Linked DNA regions of Homo sapiens. The protein of the gene in region 1 interacts with the protein of each later gene in a pairwise test. Each region holds a gene or a part of one and is shown in the gene's direction. Other genes may lie near its edges. The genes, in order: CBS, SMARCAD1, ZNF451 and ZNF181.

Evidence for each region.
Region 2: the proteins of CBS (region 1) and SMARCAD1 interact in a two-hybrid assay, tested with the Homo sapiens proteins (one large-scale study listed by BioGRID).
Region 3: the proteins of CBS (region 1) and ZNF451 interact in a two-hybrid assay, tested with the Homo sapiens proteins (one large-scale study listed by BioGRID).
Region 4: the proteins of CBS (region 1) and ZNF181 interact in a two-hybrid assay, tested with the Homo sapiens proteins (one large-scale study listed by BioGRID).

The regions. Positions count from the first base shown.
Region 1 is NC_000021.9:43,062,336-43,066,015, reverse strand, and holds part of CBS (cystathionine beta-synthase), read left to right. Parts: intron 1-320; coding exon 321-400; intron 401-494; coding exon 495-629; intron 630-743; coding exon 744-813; intron 814-2,024; coding exon 2,025-2,116; intron 2,117-2,937; coding exon 2,938-3,063; intron 3,064-3,620; coding exon 3,621-3,680. UniProt on the Homo sapiens protein: Hydro-lyase catalyzing the first step of the transsulfuration pathway, where the hydroxyl group of L-serine is displaced by L-homocysteine in a beta-replacement reaction to form L-cystathionine, the precursor of L-cysteine.
Region 2 is NC_000004.12:94,272,985-94,278,483, forward strand, and holds part of SMARCAD1 (SWI/SNF-related matrix-associated actin-dependent regulator of chromatin subfamily A containing DEAD/H box 1), read left to right. Parts: intron 1-632; coding exon 633-732; intron 733-1,753; coding exon 1,754-1,813; intron 1,814-1,905; coding exon 1,906-1,981; intron 1,982-3,354; coding exon 3,355-3,490; intron 3,491-4,037; coding exon 4,038-4,175; intron 4,176-5,437; coding exon 5,438-5,499. UniProt on the Homo sapiens protein: DNA helicase that possesses intrinsic ATP-dependent nucleosome-remodeling activity and is both required for DNA repair and heterochromatin organization.
Region 3 is NC_000006.12:57,095,564-57,101,062, forward strand, and holds part of ZNF451 (E3 SUMO-protein ligase ZNF451), read left to right. Parts: intron 1-3,497; coding exon 3,498-3,578; intron 3,579-5,039; coding exon of another isoform or gene 5,040-5,499. UniProt on the Homo sapiens protein: E3 SUMO-protein ligase; has a preference for SUMO2 and SUMO3 and facilitates UBE2I/UBC9-mediated sumoylation of target proteins. Plays a role in protein SUMO2 modification in response to stress caused by DNA damage and by proteasome inhibitors (in vitro).
Region 4 is NC_000019.10:34,732,098-34,738,291, forward strand, and holds the start of ZNF181 (zinc finger protein 181), read left to right. Parts: upstream 1-2,145; 5' UTR 2,146-2,940; coding exon 2,941-2,949; intron 2,950-6,194. UniProt on the Homo sapiens protein: May be involved in transcriptional regulation.

The DNA.
Region 1 (3,680 bases):
GCCTGGCACACAAGACGAGCACCCGGAGTCTGCTCTTCCTGTGCCTGTGTACCCGGCTGGGCCTGGAGGAACCAGATCTCCTGTCCTGCGCCGCTGCCTCCTCCTCCTTGACGTGTACCTTTTATTTCTGCCTCTGGCAGCCTCTCTCCCCCTGCACTTGAAGGCAGAAGCAGCCATGTTGGGCAATTTTGGAATCCCACAGAACCCTCTTCCCTGGGCCCTAAGGGAACCGGCATCGGGGTGTGCCCCTGTGTCCCAGGCAGGGGCGGGGCAGGGCTTGGGGGGTCACTGGGCCCCTCTCACCCTCTGTGTGCCCTCAGGGATCGGGCTGGCCCTGGCTGCGGCAGTGAGGGGCTATCGCTGCATCATCGTGATGCCAGAGAAGATGAGCTCCGAGAAGGTGGGTGGGCGTGGCCAGGGGCGGGGTCATAGGGCAGGGGATGAGGGTGCCTGGGCCAGGCGGAAGGTGCAGGCCACCGCTTTCCCTCCTGCAGGTGGACGTGCTGCGGGCACTGGGGGCTGAGATTGTGAGGACGCCCACCAATGCCAGGTTCGACTCCCCGGAGTCACACGTGGGGGTGGCCTGGCGGCTGAAGAACGAAATCCCCAATTCTCACATCCTAGACCAGGTGAGGCACCTGGGGCCTGGAGACAGGCATTCCCTAGGAGGGTCTCGGTCAGGGATGTGGGGGTGACTGAGGTGTCAGGGGTCAGCTCACGGGCTCTGCTCTCTTTCTATGCAGTACCGCAACGCCAGCAACCCCCTGGCTCACTACGACACCACCGCTGATGAGATCCTGCAGCAGTGTGATGGTGCGTCCCTCTGTCCATCTTGATTGCATTTATCCCTGGCTGCCTGGGAGTGTACACATCTCTTGCCCTCTCCTTGGTGAACTCCTATTCACCCTTCAGAACCCAGCTCAAATGTTCCCTCTGTGAAATGCTTTTCTAGAGCATTTCTCTAGAACAATTTCCTCCCTCCGTTGTGCCCTCTTGGCCTCCGCCTGTGGTTTACCTGTAATAGCAAACACAGGGCATGGCTGTATTTGTTTACCCAGCAATCTCTGCAGGTCTGCAGGGGCTCCTCCTGCAGATAATGCAGACAGCGAGTCTGTTCAGGGCCCAGGCTGGTGCTGGGCTCACAGCTTGGACTTCATTTGGGATCATGCCCTGACTCGGCATCAAATTCATCTGCAGAACAGAGCTGGTGACATCTGCGATGAGCTCACTCTCTGTTACAAGCATGAGGCCGGCTCCTTGGGCCCTTTTCCAGGGACTCGGTGCCAAGGCCTGTGGGGGTTGGTACTGAGGTTTTCCCAAGAGATCCCTTTAGAGATAAGTTGCCAAGAGGTTGGCGCCCTGGCTTCCTATTGGGAATCCGGTGTTGGCATGGGCTGGAGTACACCCTCAGTCCGTGCCCAGGAGCCGGGCTGTAAGGTCCAGGCATTTGGTTGTTTGGGCTTTATGTGTGAGAACTCTCTCATTTGGCAAAAACAGTCCTGTCTCAGCATGGGTGCCCAAGCTGCTCCGTCTCGCTGAGTCTTTCCCTGCTGTGACTTCTCCACCAGATGCCCGCGCTGGCGGCCAGCAGTGTGAGCGCCCAGCGAGTTTCTGCGCTGAAGCCTAAAAGACTGATTCCATTTCCTGTGTAAATTCAGTTAACTCACTCACACCACGCAAACATCCAACAGCCCACGGAGGTGGTTAATTCACAGCCTCCCTCTGCCCGCCCTCAGCGCCTGCACCCCCCGGACAGGGTCCTGTCTTTCTGCATCCAGCCAAATGGGGGTTTTAGGGGTCGAGTGTCACTGAGCAAAGACTGGGCTGGGGTGCCCCAGGCTGCCTGTTTCTGAGGCTTTCACAGACCAAGGGCAGCAACGAGGGCTGCTCCAACTGGAGAAGAAGTTTTTCTTTTGAACTTTTTGGTTACCCACCGTGGTTTGGGCTGAGTGTGTTTTCAATGATTATTACTATGAGTGATGGGCTGGCCAGGCAGGGACCCAAGAATGTTATCCGTCCACCAGGGAAGCTGGACATGCTGGTGGCTTCAGTGGGCACGGGCGGCACCATCACGGGCATTGCCAGGAAGCTGAAGGAGAAGTGTCCTGGATGCAGGGTGAGTGGTGTGGCCGGGCCGGAGAGGGGCAGTGCGGAGTGGCCCCGGCTTCTGAGCTGAAAGCTGTCATTCCTCACGGTCTGCTCAGCACGCTGTCTCCCGCGGTATTTCTGCGCTGCCTGGGAGGTGTTTGGGAAGACAAGGGTGCTTGACACATAAGGGACCAGCAGCTCGTGACCCGAAGGAGCTGGGGCTGGGTGCTCGCTCACCGGCCAGTGTCTTGGAGAACCTTCCTGCGCTGAGTGGGGGGTCGGAGTTCCAACTGGGGGCCTCTGAGGATCAGCCAGGAGCTCTAAGTCCTCTGGTCCTGAGTCTGCCCCTCAACTGGGGCTTGTGGGAGTTGGGAGAGGGTTCCTGGACTCGGGGTTAAGAGCAGGTCTGAGGACGGGTGCCTAGAAAGGTCCCGCTGATGAGACAAGGGCGTTCTCTCCCTGTTGCTTGCCCTTGAAAAAGACGTCACTGCCCAGCAATGCCCTTTGTCCCCAAAGGCTCTGCTGCTCCGCCGCAGGGTGGTCTGTCTGGACTGTCCTGGGGGCCCCGCTCCGAGAAGCACCCCGGGGAGGTCAGTTCCTCCCAGGCACCTGCCTTTACTTCTGAGCGCCCTGCACTGAACATTTAGGTCATTACCGCTTTAATACTTGGAGCCTGGGTTCTTGGGTTTCTCATCCTGCCTCTGAGGCTGGGAACAGGCCACCACCCACAGGCAGATCATTAACAGGCAGTTGTTAACGGCGGTATTGGCCACTCCCATAATAGAATATCGAGGCATGTCCAGGCGGGGCTTTTGCTGGCCTTGAGCCCTGAAGCCGCGCCCTCTGCAGATCATTGGGGTGGATCCCGAAGGGTCCATCCTCGCAGAGCCGGAGGAGCTGAACCAGACGGAGCAGACAACCTACGAGGTGGAAGGGATCGGCTACGACTTCATCCCCACGGTGCTGGACAGGACGGTAGGTCGAGTCCAGAGCCCGGCCACAGTGCCGGTGCAGCCTGTAACTCACCCTCACACTGGGGAGCCTGGCTGACCCTGGGCCCCAACCAGCTTCTCCACTGAAACAGAAGGGCAAGCCCCGCACGCATGGTGAGAAGCTGGTCTCGAAGGTCGAGACAAAGTAGACTGGGGGACGATGTCCGCACACGTGGCCTGACCTCACCAAGGGATGTAGCCCAGGTGGCACAGGCAGGGAGCAGGGAAAACGTGTGAAAATTAAGGCCCCGGAAAAGTCTGTTAAGAGCCAAAAAGCTGACTTTGGCCTGAGGGAGAGCAGAGACCGAAGGGCCGGTGTGGGTCACACGGATGCTCAGTGGGGCTGGCGGGCAGTTTTGCTGTCTGCAAAACGTGTTGGAACTGGAAAGTCTGCAGACGTGCCGATCCCAGGGGGAGAGGCTGGGGTGAGACCTCTGGGGTCCTACCGCCTAGACACGGGGTCCACCATGAGGCTGTTCACCCTCTTGGTCACGTGGGAGCGGCTCCCACGCTGACGGGCTGTGGTGGGGTCCTGCTCAGGTGGTGGACAAGTGGTTCAAGAGCAACGATGAGGAGGCGTTCACCTTTGCCCGCATGCTG
Region 2 (5,499 bases), on another chromosome or scaffold:
TTGTAGAGATGGAGTTTTGCCATGTTGCCCGGGCTTGTCTCAAACTCCTGGGCTCAAGTGATCCACCCACCTCAGCGTCCCCAAGTTCTGGGATTACAGGCATGCACCATGGCACCCAACCTATTTAGGTTATTTCCAGTGTTTGGCTATTAAGATAAAACTATGAACATTCTTACCCAAGTCCTTTTGCCAACATAAGCGCTCATATCTCATGATTATATTCTTAAGGGTAGAATTGCTGGGATAGATTAGGCATATGTTTCCTCCATTTAGTCATGGGACATTGCCCTTAAACCATTCAGTGGATATTAAACATTCACTGTGTCTAAGCAATAACCAAAATTATATCCTTTCCATGCAATGCAAAAAGTCTTCCATATTAATGTGTATTGTATATGAACTAGCAATGAAGATCTATCCACTGCTCAGTAAAGTAAGTTATAGCATCATTTGGAGATTATAATCAATTCTGTCATTTGAGAACTAAGAACATAGTAGAAATTCCTTTAGAGTTGCATTCTGGGAAATCAAAAGTGAATACAGCACAGAATTACTGCTTTTTCTTCTGTATTTTTATGTATTTATTTTTTGTTTGTTTTAAAATGTTATATATTGTCTTTTAAACTTTTTAGGGCCTAGGAAAAACTATTCAAGCCATTGCATTTCTGGCATACCTCTATCAGGAGGGTAATAATGGTCCTCATTTGATCGTTGTTCCAGCTTCAACTATAGGTTTGTAATACTGGAGACAACTGTATTTAACTTTATCATGTTTTATATAGGTAGAAGAGAGTGTGTGTAAGGGTGTGTGTCGGAGGGGTGTTGTGGTTTCTTAGTTTGTAGAGATGAATATTAATTTTATGGTCTCTTTATACTTTTCTCCTTTGTTTATATATGTGTGTTTGATTATATTGGCAGTCTTTTAAAAAGAACTCAAATGTAAGTCAGTTTTAAAATTTTAGACCAAGGACGATTTATGTTGGTTTCATAATACTTTTAGTTACTTTTAAAAGTGACTAAGAGAAAATGAGTACTTTTAAATGTAGAATTAAACAGATACGTAATTAATTCCTACACACATAACTGTTCCATTCTTTCTCAATTCGTTGGATGTAGAAGTTAGAATAAGAGAATATTTGTACATGTGAATGTAACAAAGAAAACCCCCTTCTCTTTAAATTGGAGGTTAATAATCAACTGTAAATATAATATTTGGTCATCTGCCCTTCATTTTGATGCCTCACAAAACCTCAAGATCATTTTACATAGGTTTCATAAGGAGTAATATTGTAAAGGGTCTGTGATAAAAACAATCGCCATGGTATTTATATTTTAATTTTTAATTTTTATTTATTTTTTTTAAGACAGTCTCGCTGTGTCACCCAGGCTGGAGTGTGGTGGCTCAATCTTGGCTCACCGCAACCTCCGCCTCCCAGGTTCTCGTGCCTCAGCCTCCCGAGTAGCTGGGACTACAGGCGCCCGCCACCATGCCTGGCTAATTTTTGTATTTTTAGTGGAGATGGGGTTTCACCATGTTGGCCAGGCTGGTATCAAACTCCTGACCTCAGGTGATCCACCCGCCTCAGCTTCCCAAAGTGTTGGGATTACAGGCATGAGCCACCTTGCTGGGCCAGTATTTACTTTTTATAAAAGACTGATTTCTGAGTAGCACTTGTCAAAGTTTAGTGTTAATTTAACCATGTGAACATACCCTATTGTAGCAGATGCAAATAATGTCTCTTCTGTTCCATAGATAACTGGTTAAGGGAAGTTAATTTATGGTGCCCTACTTTGAAGGTCCTCTGTTACTATGGTAAGAATATGTCATTCTGCTTTTAACTTTGGAAATTAAAAATAAAGTACAGCACAATAAATAGTCATGTGTTTATTGTTTTTAAATTCTAGGTTCTCAAGAAGAACGTAAACAAATTAGATTTAACATTCATAGTAGATATGAAGATTACAATGTAATTGTGACCACGTAAGTATTGAGAAATTTGGGGAGGATGGATATTTATGCAGCCCCCAAATTTAAAAAAGAAATTGTAGTAGTACTATGTAGGAAAGTTTATGCTGTTAACTGTGATACGAAAGTAATAGAATGACTAATGTTGAGGATTCAGGCATTTTTTAGTTTGGTGTGTAATACCCATATAGGAGGTTTTTGTTAGTGAATCACCTCATTAATGGTGACTATAAAAAGGTTTTGCCTAGTTATTGAAAAAAGTCGTCTTGTAATAGTAATTTCTCAGTTAAGCTTAAAGTAAAATTTGAGATATCCCACCAAAATTATTTATATTTTTAACTTACAAATAAGTATCTGTAATAAATACAATGAAATTTCATTTTCTCAATGAAAAATTTGAGTTAGGGCAGAAATAAAAATGAAAAATAATACTAATAATACTACTTGGTAATAATTGATGTAAATATCTTGCACAGAACTTAATGCTCTTGTGTTACATTAGTTGATTTATTTAAAGTTCTATTTTAACTGTAGTTATTATTTCTCTCTACTGGCTTCTTGTGTAGGAGTCTGTCCTTTAAAAATTCATGCGGAATTTTATTTTTTCTTAATAAAACAGGCTCCATATGCAGTCTCAAGCTGCTAGCTATTAACTATTATTTCTTGGATCTAATCTGCTAGTTTAATAAAATATTAAGTTTTAAAGAGAAACATGTTTTAGCTTCACGTTCTTTTTTGTGCTTATTAAAATATAACACTTCATGGAGCAGATTACTTACAAGTTATACCCAAATTGACCTCCTCCTGGGTATGTAGAAGTTGTCCGATTGTAACATTAACATTTTCTTTTTTTTTTTTTTTTTTGAGACGGAGTCTCACTCTGTCCCCCAGGCTAGAGTGCAGTGGCGCGATCTCAGCTTACTGCAACCTCTTGCCTCCCGGGTTCACGCCATTCTCCTGCCTCAGCCTCCTGAATAGCTGGGACTACAGGCGCCCACCACCACACCCGGCTAATTTTTTATATTTTTAGTAGAGACAGGGTTTCACCGTGTTAGCCAGGATGGTCTCGATCTTCTGACCTCGTGATCCGCCCGCCTCGGCCTCCAAAAGTGCTGGGATTACAGGTGTGAGCCACCGCTCCCAGCCTTTTAACATTTTCTTTCAATTATGTATTGCAGCTTTCATAGCTTGGTTACAGTGTACATCAATAATTATTAAATACAAGTACGTCAGTATTTATTTGAGTATCACCCGTGTCTAGTGCTGTGCTTTAAGTACTGGCTGTTAGAAATGTGTAAATAAAAAATGATTTTATAAGACATTAAATTTCACTAGACTCCAAGCTCTTAAAGGTATAACCTTAGAGATGTTTTTTCTTTTGGTGACAGATATAACTGTGCGATCAGCAGTTCTGATGACCGTAGTCTGTTTCGACGGCTGAAACTTAATTACGCAATTTTTGATGAGGGCCATATGCTGAAGAATATGGGCTCCATTCGCTACCAGCACCTTATGACAATTAATGTAAGAGAATGTTTGTAAAGTTTTCCAAATTACTGTAAAATTTAGATTACGTAATTTAATATATGTAGTATTTATTAGCAGAATCTGTATTATGTAGTTTAATATATGTAGTATTCTGTGTTAGCAAGTTTTTTCTGTAAAAGGGAAGATAGTAAATATTTCACACTTTATGGACTAGATGGCCTCTGTCACGTATTCTTTGATTTTGTTTTTTAACAACCCTTTAAAAAATTATTAGGTCATAAGCCATAATTTACCTGTTCTATATGTTAAACTATTTATAAATAATCTTTCATCATCTCATAAAGGTGATACGAGGACACAAGTTACCTACTTATAAAAGAAGACCAATGGTTTTCGTATTCATTGCTGTTGATAATAGCGGACGTCAATTATTTAAATTACTATATCATTTATCACAGAATGTTAAATTATTAATAATGGTTTTAATTTATCTCTCCTCCCTTCACCTTTCACTGGGGAGGATAGACATGAAAGGAGTGGCTCTTTAAGAAAAAGCTAATATAAATTTTACCTTCATTCACAGGCAAATAACCGTTTGCTGCTCACAGGCACACCTGTACAGAACAATCTGTTAGAACTCATGTCGCTGTTGAATTTTGTTATGCCACACATGTTTAGTAGTAGCACCAGTGAAATACGAAGAATGTTTTCCTCTAAGACAGTAAGCATAAATGCATATTTTCTCCCAAATATGTTATTTGTGTTTTATCTGGGCCATTCTTCTGTTAGGTCTCTTTTGTTGTTTTCATAGTGCATATGCTCTATGAAGTAACTTTAAGTAGGTGATAACTCTATATTTGGATTGGTTTGGAAACCAGCCAAAATATAATGGGAAAGAAAATAGCAATTTCCCTAATCAATGGCCAGAAGTCTTGGTTAATATCCTAATTTTCTGAAGGATGACGATTTTAAATTGATGAAGAGCTCAGATATATAGTATGTGCGGAAAGTTTGATCATTACATCATCTGTATCAAAATTGGCTACGTAAATTAGTAACATTTCTTTATGGGTAAACTATAAAACTAGACAAAGCTAGAATATCCAGAAAATGCCTATGCTGAGAAATATATTCTGAAATAAAAGTTCATAAAACCAAAGTCACAACTAAAAGCGACAGTAAAGAAATCCTCTTCACAAGAAAAGTTTTGTTACTTCTTTATTGTTTAGGAAAAGTATAGTCTTCAAGAACTCCCAGTTTTTTCAATACCGCAGTGTTTACACTGATTCTTGGCTCTCTTCCACATCACTAATCTTTTGCAAGAATTTTCTGTGATACTCGTCCACTGCAAATTAACTGCCTTTTAAACATTTACTAATTTGAATTCCCTCCCACTTAATGTACAGTGTTTTAAATGGCCTAGCAGATTTTATGAACCATTTTCTATCTTCAGTTCATAATATATGGAGGACTCCTTCACATCCTAGAATAAAATTCTACTTCTTAATTCTCCAGAGTCACCAGTTCTGACTAAGCACTATTCCCCATTTTTAGACCAAGTGATTTGCATCAGTCTGCACTAGCTTCCTTTTGGGGCCATTTTCCACAAAGAAATAAAGGATTTTCTACCCCCCACGCTCCTCCTTACCCACACTTAGACACATTTTTCAATGAGAGTTATCTAGGTAATCGATACATGACTCATCAGTTGATGACTTCTGAACACCCATCTGGTACAGTTCAAATTGATTACTTCAGTAGAGAACATGATTACGTATCATAAAACTTCAAAATACATATGGAGCTTCAAGAAGTACATGGCAGCCCAGAATTCAGATGTGAAGTGCCATCTAGAATGAATCAAGTTTCTGCAGAAAATAACTCAGACTCTAATGAGGGAGATTTTTATGTTGTGTAATAATACTGTTATTGCAATAATTTAAGTGAATAATTCCTAAAAGGATATGTTTTTATTTTGCTCAGAAATCAGCAGATGAGCAAAGCATATATGAAAAGGAGAGAATAGCACATGCAAAACAAATTAT
Region 3 (5,499 bases), on another chromosome or scaffold:
CTCAAGTGATCCTCCGTCATCGGCCTCCCAAAGTGCTGGGATTATAGGCGTGATCTACCACGCTCGTCTGGATTTTCTATCCATATTTTCCTTTTTTTCTTTTCTCTTAGTGTGAATCATATAAAATTATTGTTCTTCAGTAGTTGAAAAATGTTTGCATATTGGTTTAATGGTTCACTGCAAGAATAAATTTCTGATAACCTTATTTGTCCTTACTCCTTCCCTTTAAATATTACTGCAGCTTTTTTTTTTTGTTGTTGTTGTTGTTGTTGTTGTTGAGACAAGAGTCCCTCTCTGTTGCCCAGGCTGGAGTGCACTGGCGTGATCTCAGCTCTCTGCAACTTCTGCCTCCTGGGCTAAAGCGATTCTTGTTCTTCGGCCTCCTGAGTAGCTGGGATTACAGATGTACACCACCACGCCCAGCTAATTTTTGTATTTTTAATAGAGACAGAGTTTTGCCATGTTGGCCCAGATGGTCTCGAACTCATGGCCTCATGTGGTCCACCTGCCTTGGCCTCCCAAAGTGCTGAGATTACAGGCATGAGCCATCCTGCCTGCAGCTATTTTTAAATTATGTTTTTGATCATTTTCTTTCTTCCTTTCTTTCTTTCTGTTTTTTTTTTTTTTTTTTTTTTTTTGAGATGGAGTTTCGCTCTTGTCACCCAGGCTGGAGTGCAGTGGGACAGTCTTGGCTCACTGCAACCTCTGCCTCCCGGGTTCAAGCAATTCTCCTGCCTCAGTCTCCTGAGTAGCTGGAATTAGAGGCGCCCACCACCATGCCTGGCTAATTTTTTGTATTTTTAGTGGAGACAGGGTTTTACCATGTTGGCCAGGCTGGTCTCAAATTCCTGACCTCAGGCAATTCGCCCACCTTGGTCTCCCAAAGTGCTGGGATTACAGGCATGAGCCACCGTGCCCAGCCTGTTTATCTTATTTTTTTCCAGCCCATTTTACTTTTTACCTTGCATCCTGTCATCTTTCATCTTCTTCTTTACTTTCTGTGCATGGGAACTCTGCCTCTGTGTATTTCTGGTTACCGGGGCGGGGGGGTAGGGGGGCGCTTTTGTGTTCTGCTATTTCTGTGGACCTATAATGAAGGTTCCTAATGCATATTTCTTGTAGAGAGCAAAGTAAGATGATTATATCAATGGGAAAAGCTATCATTTTAATTTTTCTTCTTGGATCGAACATACAATTTTCAGTCTTTTTTTTTTTTTTTTTTTTTTTTTTGTGACAGAGTCTTGCTCTGTTGCCCAGGCTGGAGTGCAGTGGCACCATCTCAGCTCACTGCAGCCTCTGCCTCCTGGGTTCAAGCAATTCATCTGCCTCAGCCTCCTGGGTAGCTGGGACTACAGGTGCCCGCCACTACACCCTATTCCTATTTTTAGTGGAGACAGGGTTTCACCATGTTGGCCAGGCTGGTCTTGAACTCCTGACCTCAAGTCATCTACCCACCTCTGCCTCCCAAGGTGCTGGAATTACAGGTGTGAGCCACCGTGCATGGCCTACATTCTTCATACCAGATGTAGATTTTAAAGTAGGTGATTCAGCTCTGTTTACCATATATTGGAGAGTATTGCTTCCTCTGTTTCTTTAATTTTTACTTCCGTGTTTATAGTTTGAGCAAAAATCTCAATTCCTTTGCTACAGATCCCTGCCCAGTTTTGCCCTCTTGTTTTATCTTGGTATCTGAATTAGTACCCAAAAGATGGCAGTTTCTTGGTTGAGCAGAAGTCATAGCCTAGGGGAGAAAGAAGCTATCTTTGAGACTGGATGCCTATTCTAGGGAAGATCATTACCTAGATCTCAGCTTCTGTCTCCAGCAGTCAACTTTCTACATCCTACAAAATCCTTTCCTCAGCTATTATTTCTTCTGTGTTCCTTTCTTTTGTTTCCAACATACTGGATTTCTCAAAAGAATATGGCCTTTTCTACTGCATTCTCTAGTGTTTTAGAGCCTGGCTTCTGTGCTCACTACTTTCTTGAAAGTTGCTCTCTCAAAGACATTTAAAAATGTCTGGTTGCCACATTCAGTGGCATTTTATTGTTGCCGTGTTTCTGGCCACATTTAACACTGACAGCTTTTTATTGAGGCAATATGATAGTTCAGTTTAGTTCTAGAGTTTAATAGTCTTCTAGGGGAGCAACTCTCAAGTCTTTATTTCCAGGTATGTTCATACTTCCCAGATTACAGGCCTGCATTTCCAGCTGTCTGCTAGATACACCCTGTGTACCACTGTTACTTCAGCCCATAGGAATGTCAGCTTTCTGTTTCTGCTTTCCAAAGTTATACTATTGGCATTACTATTCTTATAGTCACCTGAGGTTAAAAACTTAGAGATCACTGACTCCTTGTTTTGTTTTTTAAATAATCTTTTAAATTTATTTTTATTTATATATTTATTATTATTATTATTATTATTATTGGGATAGTCTTGCTCTGTTGCCCGGGCTGGAGTGCAGTGGCGTGATCTTGGCTCACTGCAACTGCTGCCTCCCAGGTTCAAGCAATTCTCCAGCCTCAGCCTCCTGAGTAGCTGGGACTACAGGCACGCACCACCATGCCTGGCTAATTTGTACATTTTTAGTAGAGATGGAGTTTTACCATGTTGGTCAGGCTGGTCTCGAACTCCAGCCTGGCCAACATGGTAAAACCCCATCTGTACTAAAAGTACACAAATTAGCCAGGCATGGTTCTAACCTCAGGTGATCCCCCACCTTGGCCTCCCAAAGTGGTGGGATTACAGACATGAGCCACCACACCTGGCCTAATAATCAATCTCTTTTAGTTTTCCATTTTACTTGTATTCTCTTGTATATCCACTACCATACTCTTCTTGCCATCACCACCATTAGTTCTGCATTGTCATGTGCCTATACTGATTATCTTGCTTTCCCTGCTCTCCATACTCCTCTATGTGATTGATCTTGAAGCACAGTTCTCATGTTATTGTCTTATTATTATTTTTTATTTTCTTTTGCCTATTGAATAAAATCTAGGCTTTTAAGCCTGACATTCAAGGCCTGGTTGATGAAGAAATTGGCATGGATGGAAAGAAAGAATGGAAAAGAATTCAGGTTTGATGCTTGACTCTGCAGTGGTGGATGATGAAGCTGAGCTATAAGTCAATTCATTTTTGAACTTGGATATATTAACAGACTTTTGATACCAATTCTAGGTGTAAAGCACTGGATTATAATATTTGTGTCTTTGTAGCACTGTTCTTATATTAATTTTCCTTTCCCAAGTAATTGACATGGCCCTAATATTCTACAGGGGTGTAGGTGCTTCCTTTTAGGTCTTGTCATCATTTTACATTTATATATTTTGAATATTTTCCTCTGCTGCTTTTGTTCTGGTTATTTTCTGCTACCCACAAAGCTCCCTCTTCAGAGTAATTCTTGCCAGTCCCAACCAAAAAAAACACTGTAGGTTTAAATGCTAATTTGGTTTGAATAACTGTTAATGACTTCTAAATTTGCTTGATTGTTTATAGGAAGGACCATTACGACCTGTTCTTGAATACATTGATCTGGTCAGCAGTGATGATGAAGAGCCTAGCACCTCTTATACTGATGTAAGTACATTATATTTGATTTGTGTTTCTTCACTTGTGTCTTTTAAGAGGTATTCTCTAAAGAGAGTTACCAAATCAGGGAAGGCTGTGTTTAGAAATAGCCAGTTCTATTAGAATGGGCTAAAATAGGTAGTCCAAGGAGTCCTTTGCCCAGATCTCCTACTTCCAGTTTTTTTCCTCTACTTTGAATGAGATTATGAAAAAAATGATAATATGACTCTGGGAAATTCAGAGCCTTAGAGGTGATATCTGATAAAATGGAAATGGAATAAAAACTGCAAGCTTATTGATTCCTCTTTCCCTTCTCTTTTCCTTTACTCTCCTCAGGTGCCCTATACAACAGGATTCTTTTGTTCCAGAACCACATGACCACAGAAAATTTGTTTTCTCTTAGAAAAAAGGATATGTAGAGATCCTTTTAGGAATGGAAAGTGGGGGAAGGGTTTATAGGGGATATATTACTTCAGTCATCATCCCTTTAACCTTGTCTGTGCCCCACATATTTGGAGTTATTTATCTTACCTGTGATGTACTGGTTGTAGGTTTGACCCTTGGACCAATACTTCCCTTGCTCTGAGAATTGAACTAGTTGAGCCCTTTGTAACAGTCTTGCCTTTCATTTGTCCTTGCTTTAGCCCAAACTTCTGTTAATGAGCTGTTTTCATCTTGGATTAGAAAACTCTTAGTTATTGTTCAGAGTGGCCACAAACTTCTTGCTCTGTGATATAGGGGATTGAGACTTGGACTTGGAATCAGAATACCTGGGTTTGAGTCCCAGCTTTACTCTTTACAAATTCTGTGACTTTGGATAAATTAAGTAACCTTTTAGCCTCCGTTTTTTAATCAAATAATACCTACCTCACAGGGTTGTTGTGAGGATGAAATGAGGTAACAAATTATAACTTCTTATAACTACAAACCATAAAGTAGGACTATACAACTGGGAAGTTTTGTTATTCGTGGACAGTGAATGACAGAATTTTCAGAGGTGCCTAAAATGACTCTAATGGGGGAGTTTTAGATTTTTTTTCTTCTCAGTGGAACTTTCCTTAAGTTCTCTTTGCCATCATTAGCTTCTTGCATATCTTGAGTAGAACTTAACATATCTTGAATGGGATATTTTTTTCTTTTATTCTTATGAGTGGTCTCACACAGGACCAAACAGCAGGCCAGCATAGCACCACGTGATCTGAGCTTGTTTTTACTCTCTCCTTTTTCATAAACAGAGTCCCAGATTAATGCCAGTAGTTGATTTTGGGTCTTTGGGGTAGTGAAGCTTGTGGATTTGACTTCTCTGATTCCTTTTGCTGACCTTGAGTGGATTGTATCTTTCACTGTTAATTATAATAATTTAAAAATTGAGTTCTACTTACTGGACATGAATCTCTGCACTTGAAAGTTAACATATTAAAAGCATATTTTTTTTCTTCCTTGGTTTTCTTGTTCATGTGGATAACCCAGAGAATGCCTGAATCTAAGGTGCCATCCTCTGAGAATCATCGCCCAGAAATGTGCTCTAGCTGCAATGTTCCTCTTCCCATTGGAGATAGCAGCTCCTTCTCTGGGAGTTGTTCCAGCAGTCCAGAAAGGATAGTTTCTCAAACTTCCTCTGTTGAGAACCCATTGGAGAACCAGAAAAATGATCAAAATAATTCAGATACTAAGATCTCTGAGACAGAGACCCTTAAATCATCACAGAATTTTCAGACTCTGCCTTCATCTCCACTTCTGGTCCCCCAAGAATCTTTGGCCTCTTCTGAGGTCAAAGAGAATTTACGTATAGATTCTTCTTCAGCTTCACAGCATGGACGGGATGCCATCCTCTATCTCCAGACACAAGTAGCTGAAATGTCCCGAGTGATACGTGATCTGCAGTCCAGGAGCTGTTTTAGATTTCATCATTCTAGGCCAAGTGAGAACT
Region 4 (6,194 bases), on another chromosome or scaffold:
GTAGCATGGGATGCCTGTCTGGCCCTGGACCTGCCCTGGGCCCTGCCCTCTGCCACCGCTCACAGGACAAACCCAAACAATTGCTGTCCTCCCTCTGAAATGGTGGTCATGGGGGTGCAGGGAAGGCCTCACGTCCCTCCTGTGCCCAGGCCCCTCACCCCAACACTCTGGCTGGCTGCATCTGCTGCCCAGAGCCCTTGGTCACCAGGCGTGCAGCCTGGACCACGCTGATGGCAAGGGAGGCCCTTCCTAAGCCTAGAGGTGGTCTAAACCTTCATGGAACTGCTGGTCACAGTGCCAGCCAGAGTCCCAGGTGACGCTGAGATAGCTCAAAGTGGTGCATGGGAGATGTCTGATATCAACCCTCTCCTGGAGGTAGATGATGTCTCCAGCCTGGTGACTTCCCTGGCCTCCAGCCACCACCACCCCCAGTGTCCCCAAGGCTGAAGGTGCAAGCTTGCCCTGGCCCTGGTCCTGGCATAGAAAGTGCACGATCTGGTCATGTCATGCAGGTGAGGATACTTGTGTGCCAGGTAACCTCAGGCAGGCATGGTGGCGCTTGTGGGGCAATCCTGTAACCTGCAGTGTGGTGGGTGGGATGGGTGTGTGTGACACAGGCAGGAACTACTCCTGATGGCAGCTGACGACCCACATGTGTACTGGGTGGGTGCCAATGGGAGTAGCAGGTGAGTGGCTGAGCACAGGCAGGTGAATGAGTGACAGCTACACAAACCCCACCACTGAGCACGTCCCTCCCAGGGCAAAGCAGATCAGATCACAGGCCCAGCCCTGGGAGGCCCAGAGGAGCCTCAGGTCCTCAGGAAGGCTCCTGGCCCTCTTCGCCCTAGGAGGACCCCCCCCCCGCCCCAAGCCGGCTCCACCTGTAGCTGTGGGCGTGGGAGGGAGACAGAGCGCTCTGGCGGCCAGAGAAGGAAGGAAGATGGAGGGAGGGCGGACTTCTGCTCCCTGACGCTGCTGCTAGGCCCCCTGCGGCCCTCCTGGAGCCCACACCTTTCAGCTGCAGTCTCCCAGCCTTCGTCCCCAGGACGAAGCCCACTAAGCCAGTGCTTTTCCACTGCAGCTGGCTGTTCCGCTTGGGGAGGGTTCCCAGATTGTGCAAAGTGAGGAAGGGTCCCCTGTCCCTGCCCCGCAGGGCCCCCACTCCAGGCCTCCCCCATCTCTCCCTGTCTCTCTCAGAGGTAGAGGCAGCATTAAATTAAAATTTAATTAAAATATTAAAAATAAAGTAAAAAATTCAAATATACAACAGTAGACTGTCTGGCTTGCATACAAAGAAGGCCATTGCCCCTTTGGGTGAGCCGGGCAAGGTCAGGGTCTAAGAAGCGCCTCTGGTGAGAAGCGGTTGTCAGGCTCTGATGGCTGCGGGAGGAGTGACTCCTCCCAGGATGAGGGTCTGTGTCCTCTCAGTGCTCACTCAAGTTCCGTATTTCCAAGTCCTTCCAGGGGGCGTAACGCACGTGAGAACTGCCATTTCTGTCACAGATACGTGGCCGCATGCATTTCCAGGAAATGTCCTTGGTTCGCGAACTACAGCTGGCACAATCCAGCCCAGGGCGTTCTGTGAGCTGTAGTCTCCAGCAAGTGAATTCCAAAAAAACCTCAAAGACCTCAAAGACCATACAGGGTGGACAGCGTAGTAGCAGGGTTTGGGAAGAGAGGAGCTCTTTTGCTAGCAAAGGCGAGAGCTCGCCTGGTACAAGGTCTGCCCACGTCCCGGGAGATAAACATTAGTGTGAGCGCACGCTAGACCCAGAAGAGTTTGCCACGGCCGCACGGTTTTCTGGGAAGTGTAGTTTCTTGGTCCCGGCGCCATTGTCCTTAAAAGTAGAGGGTGGCCCTTGGTTCCGAGGTGTATCTTTCACCTCATCAGTATGACTATATGCCCCAGGACACTTCCCGCATGGTCCTAACTGCCGGGCTCTGGGACGACAGCCCCAGGCGGTTTAGTTTTTTAGGAAACCGAGATCTGTTTGCCCGCGGCGCCCCAGGTCCGCGCGGCCGCAGAGACTCCTGGGAAGTGTGGTCTTCCGGTACCTGCGGTTCGTTGCGCCTGGAATTTTGTCCCCTGCGCGGATGATTCTGGGAAATGTCGATCGGCTGTGGGCGGCGCACTGGGTCCGCCCCGCTGTAGCCTCAGGCCTGACGGCGACTCCCAGGCTCCGGGACGATTCTGGGCAGTGTCGTCCCCAGAGGTCGGCGGCCGTTGCCCGCTCACCAGCGACGCGGGGCGCCTGCGGGGACGGTGAGGCCCTGCTGAGGACTCCGGCCAGTATGAGTCCCGGGGGCGGCGGCGGGGCTCAGGCCCTGGGTCTGCCCCGCGGTGTGACCCCGGCCGGTGCCTTGGTTTTCCTGGCCTTCATGTCCTCCTATGTAAACGCGGGGTGATGACGGCGCCGACCTCTTGGCGCTGTTGTGAGAGTGAAGTGGGCGCGTGGTTAGACGCCAGCCACAGTTGTCTTTGGGTTATGTCGTCATGAAGCCGGCGCTCTACAGTTGTGTAACCTTGAACAAATGGGTTCAGTATCTTGGAATTTCAGTTTTGTCATCGTTTAAAAAATAGATCTGGAAAAATGTGAACGCACACCGTGCATAGTGGTGAAGACTGAACGAGCTGATAAAGTTTTTACCATTGTTTTATGAGGATTTTATTTACAGAGTAATTGATTTTCCTCGCAGGTGGCACCTGGTAAATGGTTAGCCCTTGCGGAGAAACACCCTGTTAGTTCCCAGGGAGAGATTGGCGCCCTGGAGAGTGATTACCAGTGTGCCTTTCCATTATGGTGTGTCACAGGTGCCGCAAGATAAGCCTGATTTTTCATGACTGCTTTTTCCTGCCCTTCTGTGCCCTCAGGACACTGCCCATCTCTAAGATAAGAGCCTGGAAAGAGGACTCTGTTGGCTGTTGGAAATTGCAGAGTAATGCCTCAGGTAGGTCGGTGTGTCCGCAAATCTTCCTGAAACACTTTATCAGGACTGTGTGTTTGCTTTGCTTCTCCTGCCTGTTCCCACCTAACCAAGTCCATTTAAGGGACTGGATCCATGGTTCCTTTCAGTATAGGAAGGACGGAGCCCACAGGAGAGCTCCAAGGTATTATCCTCCTCACCCAGTGTTCCTCTTTTCTACAGTTTTCTGCTAGAAGACTTTCTAGTCTTGCCAACATTTTAAAACTGTAATTCACAATGCAACTTTGGAATGTAAGGTTATTCGGTTTATGGTTGTCAAAACTGTACCATGTGGTCTCAAGTGAAGAGATGCTTGCAGTCATCCTTGATTCTTCCCTTTGACTTATACCTATATTCAGATCCTCTAGTTGGAGCTAAGCTATACACTGTATACAGAATCTGACCATTAGTTACCCCAGCACTACCACCACCACTACCACCCCGGTAGTGATAGCAATAAAGCCACCTGGATTATTGCGGTAGCCTCCTAGCTGGATTCCCTGCATCTGCCCTTAACCCTCATCAGTCTGTTCTCAGTACAGCTGTGACCGTGGTCCTATTGTTACATAAATTCCTGTCATTCCTCAACCTATAATTTTTCAGTGGCTCTAACTGAGTCACTTCTGCAATGACCTATTTGTACAATTAGGCCATTACCTTTCTGATCCCACCTTCCTTCTCTGCCTCCTCATTCCTGTGAGCTCTAGCCACTGTCACTAGTTGCTGTGCCATCGACGTGGAATATTCTTCCCCCACATACGCACAAACTTGCATCCTTATCTTCTTCGTGTGTTTGTTCCGTGGTTACTTTCTCAGAAAAGCTTCCCTGAATGGCTATTTGCAATCGCAGTCACCTTCCCTCGCCTAGCACTTCCACTCCTCCATCACTGCTTTGTTGTTTTCCACAGTGTGTGTCACTCACTAGCTGATGTACTGTATGTTCAGTATATGCACATGCTCATTGTCTGTTCCTGGTGGGAGGAATCTTTTTTCTTTTTTGTTGTCTGTTATAGCTTCAGTACCCAGAGGGTTACCTGGCACCAAATAGATGCTTAGTAAGTAATTGTGGAGTGAATAAGATGAGTAATGACGAACTGGTGGGGCAGAATCATGGCATGGAAGGTGAAGCTTGCATAGGAGGGGATGTGAGTAGCAGATGTACATGTTGGGTGAAGTCTGTTTTCTTGGAGAAGTTAGATAATTAGAATTGAAAAACTGGTGTGGTGGTACATGCCTGTTTTTCCAGCTATTCGGGAGGGTGATGAGTTGAGAAAATTTCTTGAACCCTGTGGTGTGCGGCTGCAGTGAGCTATGATTATGTCACTGCACTCCAGCCTGGCGGCAGAGCAAGAAAAAAGTAACAGCTAAAGTGAACTAATGCCAAAATCATTCATTGGTTCATCTTCTAAACACTTAGGAAGTATCTGTTAGGAAAAGTTGTACATGGATTTTGGTGTACACTGACACACAGGACTTCATGATCTAGTGCAGTATTGTCTAAGAGAACTTTCTGCAGTGGTGGAAGTGCTCTGCATGTGTACTGGTCAGTACAGTAGCCACCAGCCCTGTATGACTATTGAGTACTTGAACTGTGGCTTAAGCAACTGAGAAACTGAATTTTAAACTTTACTTATTTTATTTTTACATTTTAATTAATTTAAATGTATGTAGCCAAATTGCCTAGTGGCTACTGTATTGAGGATTGCAGCACTGGTAGAAAAGTAAGAAAGCATAAGAAATTAAAATAAATGCCAGGACAGATAGGCTATGTTCTTTTGGGGACAGAGATGAGTGAACACCCCAGGCTGCCCAGACAACTGAAGGGGAAGAAGGAAGCATCCCTGGCTCTAACTTGTAATAACCTGTTCATCATAAAGCTATGAGAAATGTTTTTTTGATTTGGGATAAAGGGAATTAACTAACACAGTGGCAACTCCAATTAACAGGTGAATTTAGGATAAATTATGTGTAGCAAATTGAACTGTAAGGTCTTACTTGATTATTTGGAAAATGTATGTATTGGATTGTATCTGCTTGGCTATAAAAAAGAGATTTCTTCCTGTCCTTTTAATCTCATTAGTGGATTGCCTGTGAAGTGCATCACAGTTGATTTAGTGATTATTAAGTAATAAAACTGTGTTCTTTTTTTCTACATTTGTGGAGAGGATTTTCTGCCATTGGCAGGAGATTTGAATTTTAATTATTTTCCCAACACCTGGCAAAAATAAATTCTGCCTTTAAAACCAAAGACGAGTATCACTGGTGAACATGCATGCAAAATATCCAAATAATGTAATACAATGCTGAATTAACTCTCAGAGCTAAAAAATTACCACAGGCAAGCAGTCTGTTTCACAAATCAAAGACAGTAATAATGCTGTATTAAATAGATGTATTTTTTGTACATATTATAATTTGACTAGCCAATAAACTATTATTGAATATTTAAGCTTCCAAAGTTTTACTAAAAAGTAATATTGTGAAATGAGTACTATTGAAAGGAATTTCTAAGCCACATCTGTGAACATTTCCTTATTTTCTTTGAAACGTACCCCTTTATTTTTTTCCCTTTACTTTCAGGTCTTATTTAAGGACTATCTAAGGCAGTGGTGCCCAACCTTTTTGGCACCAGGGATCGGTTTTGTGGAAGACAGTTTTTCCACAGAAGCAGGAGGTGGTGGTTTGGGGGTGAAACTGTTTCACCTCAGATCATCAGGCATTAGTTCAATTCACATAAGGGGCGTGCAACCTTAATCCCTTGCATGCGCACTTCACAGTAGGGATTGCGCTCCTATGAGAGTCTAATGCCATAGCTGATCTGACAGGAGGCAGGGCTCAGGTGATAAAAGTCATTTGCCTGCCACTCATCTCCTGCTCTGTGGCCTGATTTCTAACAGGCCACAGACTGGTACCAGTGGTTATGTACCCCTAACCATCAGGGGATTAGGGACCCCTGATCTATGGCATGAAACCATCCTTCAGTCTTTTCACCCAGGGGTCTCATATTTTAATAATTGTCTATCAGTACAAAGTTTAAGTATACACCATAAATATATTTTTCTTTTTTGTTTATGAATCAGTTATGTGTATATTTTAGTCCATTGGTGCTGCTATAACAGAATACCACAGACTGAGTAATAGAAATTGACTTCTCATGGTTTTGGAGCCTGGGAAGTCCAAGATCAAGGGGCAGGCATCCAGCAAGGGCCTTCTTGCTGTGTCCTTTTATG